Linked DNA regions of Homo sapiens. The protein of the gene in region 2 interacts with the protein of the main gene of each other region in a pairwise test. Each region holds a gene or a part of one and is shown on either strand. Other genes may lie near its edges.

Region 1 (3,825 bases), on a different chromosome or scaffold from region 2:
AATAACAGAGGTTTTACAAAGTGCTATGGGACTACAGTATTAAGAAGCAGCTAAATTCTGTCCAGACTAATGAAAGAAACTTCAGAGTAGCTGATATTTAAGCCAAATCTTAAAGAAGTTTGCCATGAAAAAAAGAAAAGGTATTCAAGGCCAGGAGAATGGCATGTACACAACACAGAAGCATAAAAGATCATGGCGTGTACAGAGAATGGCAAGCATTTCCATATTATTTTTTTTTGAGACAGCGTCTTGTTCTGTCACCTAGGCTACAGTGCAGTAACACAATCACAGCTCACTAACAGCCTGACTTCCTGGGCTCAAGCAATCTTTCTACCTCAGCCTCCCAAGCAGCTGGGACTATGGACACACGCCACCACGCCCAGCTAATATAATTTGTTGTCATCGTTGTTGGAAATGAAGTCTCCCTATGTTGCCCAGGCTGGTCCTGAACTCCTGGCCTCAAGAAATTCTCCTGCTTTGGCCTCCCAAAGTGCTGGGATTACAGGCGTAAGCCACCACGCTCAGTCCATATAATTTTAACATAGGACACGTTTAGAGAAAGGGAGAGAAGCAGAAGGCGATGCCCAGGACCAAGAATAAACAAGGGCTATGTAATAAGCCTTGAATCCCACTGTAACAGGCAGAAGACTGAGAACCATCCTCTTGATCATGATTGTAGTTGTGATCTACTTTCTACTGAATGTCTATCACATATGTGACTGGGGTAAGGTATGATTATGAGATCAAGGACTACTCTAGAATGAAAAAGCCTTTTAAGAGAAATAGGCCAGGCATGGTGGCTCACGCCTGTAATCCCAGCACTTTGGGAGGCTGAGGCAGGCGGATCACTTGAGGTCAGGAGTTAGAGACCAGCCTGGCCAACATGGTGAAACTCTGTCTCTACTAAAAATACAAAAATTAGCCAGGCATGATGCTGTGCACCTGTAGTCCCAGCTACTCAGGAGGCTGAGGCAGGAGAATTGCTTGAACTCGGGAAGCAAAGACGGCAGTGAGCTGAGATCGCACCATTGCACTCCAGCCTGGATGTTGGTGCGAGACTTCATCTCAAAACAAAACAAAACAAAAAACAGAAATAGGGAATACAGTACCCTTGAGGTCTCTAAAGTCTAGTTGTCCCTCTTTTGCACCACAGGTACTAATCAAAATATAGTATCCAATCTGACATGAATGCAGAGTCTACCAGCCACTGCTGGTGCTCATTCCAGGAAAGAAAAACATACCTTGCCATAGGAGGTCTTAAATGCTGCTTTAATTTTTTGCCTCTGATCATTGGAACGGTTGGCCACCACATCCACAATTGCCTGCTCATCTGTCCCTGGAAGAACCACACATGTTTAAGTAAGGACAAAGTACATGCTAGGTGCTGCTTGAGGTCATCTTTTTTTTTTTTTTTTTTTTTTGAGACGGAGTTTGTCACCCAGACTGGGGGTGCAAGTGCAATGGTGTGATCTAGGCTGACTGCAATCTCCACCTCCCAGGTTCAAGCAATTCTCCTGCCTCAGCTTCCCGTGAAGCTGGGATTACAGGCATGCATCACCATGCCCAACTATTTTACTTTTTATTTTTAGTACAGATGGAGTTTCGCCATGTTGGCCAGGCTGGTCTTGAACTCAGGTGATCTGCCCACCTCGGCCTCCTAAAGTGCTGGGACTACAGGTGTAAGCCACCACACCCAGCCTGAGGTCATCTCTTAGAATGCTTACAAGGCACTAGACATCAGATTAAATCCAGGTATGCGCACCCAGGCTGACACATAAACTTGGGTTTATGAGATAAGGTTTATTTTTACTTTAGAACTGATTACTTTAACTTATTAAAAAAGACAAAAATTTGTTTTCCTTACCAAAACCCTTCATTGCCTTACGAAGAATTTCTGCATCTCTTATAGCATCGAAGTTGGCAGCTGGTCGGATAGTTCCTTGAGTGACCTGAGTCACTGTGGCAGGCTGAAAATAAAAGGCATAAAATCCGTGTCAGCATTTCCAGTAAGTTTCTAATGAGGAAACTTAAAGACTTCCCCAGACATCAATCTTAAGTAAGAAGGCCAATGTTTGGGTTTTAAGGCAAGGATATGAGCATTTTATTACCAGAGCTCATTATGGAACAGACAGGAAAGACCTATCCCCCTTCAGGACAGATTTTTCTCCTGCCAACAGATAGCCAGACACCAAACTTCCAGGAGACAAGATGGCCAAACTTGTGAAATTAAAGTCACAATCTTACTATAGTTTCCTTTTTGGTAGAATAGGAAGAAAAAAGAAGACTGATCCCTGAATGGTGTGAGATGAGCGACAATGTTTGATTTAAAAACAGAAGAATATAAAATGGCTTTAGTGAAGTAGCACATGAATGCCCAGTGAGATTTCAAACCAGCAATATAATTTTAGTAATCTCTCTTAATTTCCTATATGGACCCTGATTATTATACATGAAATAAATCTATATGAAAATTAAAAATTGCCATTTAGCAAATACTATGGTAGTAACTGTTTCAGGCAAGAATCAACAGTGGGTGCTAAAATTAGGTGGCAAAAGTATAAAGAAACAGGATATTTGTATAACCTATAACATTATAGCAGAGAAACCTTGCAGGCACCAACTTAAATGATCAAAATTAATTATCACCAGTAATGGAATAAGTCAATAATAAGTGTCTCCTGATATGATGCACTGGGGGCACAAAATCATTTCTGTGGTACTCTTGCCAAAAAGGCATGACCTGGATTTAACCATGAGAAAATATCAGACAAACCCAAATTAAGAAATATTTTATAAAATAACTGACAGTGTTCTTCAAAAGCATCAAGGGCATGAACAACAAAGACTGAGGAACTATTTCAGATTAAAGGAGACTTAAGAGACATGACAATAAATACAACATTGCATTCTGGATTTGATCCTGAACCAGAAAAAGGACATCATTGAGACAACTGGTGAAACTGAAATAAGGTCTGTAGGTTGGGTAACAGTACTATATCGATGTTATTTCCTGATTTTGATCATTGCATTGTGTTTATGTAGGAAGTTAACATTTGGAGAATCTGAGTAAAGGGTATATACAAATTATTTGTACTATTTTGCAAGTCTAAAATTATGTCAAAATTAAAAGATAAAACAATTTAAAATACAAAGCTATGAAATAATTCAATAGTTTCCCCCAATTTTTTATTTTTTAGAGATAGGCTCTCACTCTGTTGTTCAGGCTGGAGTGCAGTGGCACAAACATAGCTCACAGTAACCTTGAATTCCTGAGCCCAAGCAATCCTCCTGCCTCAGCCTCCTGAGTAGCTAGCACTACAGCCATGTGCCACCATGCCCAGCTAATTTCTTACTTTTGTAGAGACGGGGGTCTTGCTATGTTGCCCAGGCTGGTATCGAATTCTTGGCCTCAAGTGATCCCCCTGCCTTGGCCTCCCAAAGTGCTGGAATTACAGGTGTGCGGCCAGCCCAGAATAATTCAAGAAGTTTCTTAGGGTGTTCAAGTCAGGGCTTAAGAGGGATGGGATGAAGATGATGCTCCACTACTTTTTAAAAAAATTTTAATTGTAACAACACATTTCTTGTATGTTTGAATGTTGACCTAAAATAAAGATTACTGTTGTAAAATAAGTGTTTTCACTGCAGAAAACACACATATACACACACACAGTTTATTTAATCCAATACCTCCAAAGTATTATCATTTAAACATGCAATCAATACCATTTCAAAATAAAAGATGATTCAATGCTTTTTAGACAACAGAAACTGTATTTAAAGTTATACACATTGAATACAGCAGTACACCAGCATTTGTGGGGGCAA
Region 2 (3,825 bases):
TTTGCCACATTCTTCACATTTGTAGGGTTTCTCTCCAGTATGAATCATCTTATGTGTAGTAAGGTTTGAGGACTCATTAAAGGCTTTGCCACACACTTCACATTTGTAGGGTTTCTCTCCAGTATGAATTCTTTTATGTTTAGTAAGGGTTGAGGACCAATTAAAGCCTTTGCCACATTCTTCACATTTGTAAGATTTTTCTCCAGTATGAATTATCTTATGTTTAGTAAGGTATGAGAATCGATTAAAAGCTTTGTCACATTCCTCACATTTGTAGGGTTTCTCTCCAGCATGAATGAACTTATGTGTACTAAGGGTTGAAGACTGGTTAAAAGCTTTGCCACATTCTTCACATTTGTAGGGCTTCTCTCCAGTATGAATTATCTTATGTGTAGTAAGGTGTGAGGACCGGTTGAAGGCTTTGCCACATTCTTCACATCTATATGGTTTCTCCCCAGTATGAATTATCTTATGTGTAGTAAGGGTTGAGGACTGCTTAAAAGCTTTGCCACATTCTTCACATTTGAAGGGTTTCTCTCCAGTATGAATTCTCTTGTGTCTAGTAAGGGTTGAGAACCATTTAAAAGCTTTGCCACATTCTTCACATTGGTAAGAATTCTCTCTAATATGAATTCTTTTATGTTGACTTAGGTGTAAAAGCATGCAAAATGATTTGCCACATTTTTTACATTTGAAAGGTTTCTTTCCAGTATGTCTTGTCTTATGTCTATTTGCATTTAAAAATTTATGAAAGACTTTCACATATTTATCACATGGAAATATTTTGCTCTGGGTAGTTGTCAAACACTGGTTTAGCTCATTATAACCTTCTTTGTGCACCTTATACTCATCTACACTTGCGGAGCCTTTTCTTAACTGTAAATTCTCATGTTCACATTTGCCATATCTTCTCAGTATTACTTGTTGAAAAGAATCTTTTATGTCTTGCTCTGGCCAAAGGTCTTTGGTAAAATAAGAACACATAGCTGAAAGAAATACAAACAACAAATTATTCAACTTACTAGACTCTGATAAACATACTTTACAAATCTAACCTACATTATACAAACTACATAAACAAGATGCCATAATAAAATACCATAGGCCCTAAATCCTTCATAGACATATAAATCTAATAAAAATATACTGACCAAAATATATTTGAGGACAACTTATAAACAAGTGTGTAAAGTTCCCCAGGTGAGCACACAGGTGAGTACACAGGAATGCAAAGACACAGAAGAAAAAGAAAAGTCTGTTACATTTACCCAACACAGTTCTTCCTACTCAACAATACAACATAGTGCCTTTCAAAGTAAATTGCTAACTTTTCGTTTCTTTTTTAATAAACAAGTAAAACACTGGCACATACATCTATATTACTTGCTTCTAGGGGCCCTTCCAGAAACTGGTCTCCCATAACATAAAGTGCTGAAAGAAATGGTGGTATATTTTGGAATTACAGTTTACTTCTGCTGAGACCAAAGGTAAATGTTACAGCAACAGAGAGACTGCAGTACCACAGACAGGGAACAGATACAGCAAATGACTGCTGATTAAGATGAAACAGAAACTCCTTTAACTAAAAAATAAACACAAAATTTTAGACAAGACACATTCAAAGAACATGTTTGAGAGTCTCACAGGATCTCAAACCAAGATAATTGTTTTCAGACTATGCCAGGACAAAGCTACATTATAAACAATGTGACAGGTAGCTATATTTAATGTCCAAATATTAATCAAAGATTACAATGAATACAAAATAGGGCAAAATCGCTCCACCAAAATTATAAGATTTTCAGAAAGAAACCATAAAAAAGATGTATACATTAATTTTAAAAATTTAAAATAAATTGAATACTCAATGAGTAAAATAAGGACACAGACAACTATAGAAAATCAGAAAAAATGAGAATAACAAAAATATTTAAAATATCCAAAAACAGAAATTGTAAAGGAAAATATAACTAAAAAATTCTGAAAGAAAAAATAATGTCAAAATGAAGAAGCTCAACAAATACACTAGGATACACATAAAGATATTTATAACAAACACATATATAAGCACAATTTCGAAAGTCACAGACAAGAAGAGAATGGAGCTGCAAGATAAAAACGACATGTCATTTACAAGCATAGTCTTATGAGATAGCCGGTGAACTGTCAACAAAAACTTTGCAGGCCAGAAGGAAACTGTGTGATATAGTCAAAGTCCTGAAAAAAATAGCTATAAAGTGAGAATAATACCATCAGCATATCTGTCCTTCCAAGTAAAAAGAAAAAAAACCTTTAAAAATAACCAAATACTGAAAAAGTACATTGGCTTTTCATATGCCTTACATATAAAAGATGCTGAAAACCGTTGCTGCTACTGAAAATAACATGATTCAACAAAACAACACATCATATAAAAGACATTATTCTCTGGGAAAAAAAATGCACATACACAAAAATGGAATTTCTTAGCATTATAATAATAGTGCAAAAAATATTAATTATTCTCTAAAATTTGAAAGGTACAAGAATAGAAATCATTATAAACATTTGTTAGCAAATATACAACATAAAATATACAATTAGCAACATCAATGACAAATTTGAAGGCAGATATAATGAGAAAAAATTTTTGGATGCAACTGAAGTTCTTTTTTTTTTTTTTTTCTTTTGATATGGAGTCTCACTCTGTCGCCAGGCTGGATGGTGCAATCTTAGCTCACGGCAACATCCGCCTCCTGGGTTCAAGTGATTCTCTTGCCTCAGCCTCCCGAGTAGCTGGGACTACAGGTGTGCACCACCATGCCCAGCTAATTTTTGTATTTTTAGTAGAGATAGGGTTTCACCATATTGGCCAGGGTGGTCTCGATCTCTTGATCTTGTGATCTGCCTGCCTCGGCCTCCCAAAGTGCTGGGAATATAGGTGTGAGCCACGACACCTGGCCTGAAGTTCATTTTTTACCAGATTAAAATACATTGTTGTATCTTTTAGAGGTTTTATATAATCCCCAAGGTAACCCCAAGAATACGTTTGCGTAAGTACACAAAACAAATGAGAAAGAAGTAAAAGCATACCAAGATAAGTACAACAAAGACACAAAGACAGAAAAAGAGAAAATGAGGAACAAAGATACAAGAAGCAAATACAACAATTAACAAAATAACAATAGTAAGTCTGCATAAGTGGAGAAAAATAAAATTCTTTTCAGACAAGCAAATGCTGAGGGAGCACATCACCACCAGGCCTGCCTTGCTAGAGCTCCTGAAAGAAGCACTAAGGTTAAGAAGAAAAAACCATTACCAGCCATTGCAAAAACACACTGAAGTACAAAGATCAATTATGCTATAAAACAACTACATCAACAACTCTGCAAAATAAGCAGCTAGCACTACTTGGACAGAATCAAAATCACACATAAAAATACTAACCTTAAATGTAATAGGCTGAATACCTCAACTGAAAGACACAGAAGGGCAAGCTGGATAAAGAGTCATGACACAGTTTGGGACCAGCCTGACCAACATAGTGAAACCCCATCTCTACTAAAAATACAAAAAATTAGCTGGGTGTGGTGGTGGGCGCCTGTAATCCCAGCTACTCAAAATCCCGCAACTACAACGAAACTGAACAACCTACTCCTGAATGAATTTCCTGAATGAACAACTTGCTCCTCTTTATTTCTGGGTAAATAATACAACTAAATCAGAAATCAAAAAATTATTTGAAACCAATGAGAATGAAGAGACAATGTAGCCGGGCGTGGTGGCTCACACATGTAATCCCAGCACTTTGGGAGGCTGAGGCGGACAGATCACCTGAGGTCGGGA

What was found.
Region 1: the proteins of ZNF431 (region 2) and ANXA7 interact in a two-hybrid assay, tested with the Homo sapiens proteins (one large-scale study listed by BioGRID and IntAct).

What each region holds. Positions count from the first base shown.
Region 1 is NC_000010.11:73,386,448-73,390,272, forward strand, and holds part of ANXA7 (annexin A7), read right to left. Parts: intron 1,968-3,825; coding exon 1,865-1,967; intron 1,337-1,864; coding exon 1,242-1,336; intron 1-1,241. UniProt on the Homo sapiens protein: Calcium/phospholipid-binding protein which promotes membrane fusion and is involved in exocytosis.
Region 2 is NC_000019.10:21,179,784-21,183,608, reverse strand, and holds part of ZNF431 (zinc finger protein 431), read right to left. Parts: intron 987-3,825; coding exon 1-986. UniProt on the Homo sapiens protein: Sequence-specific DNA binding transcriptional repressor. Represses target gene transcription by recruiting HDAC1 and HDAC2 histone deacetylases. Acts as a specific transcriptional repressor for PTCH1 during embryonic development.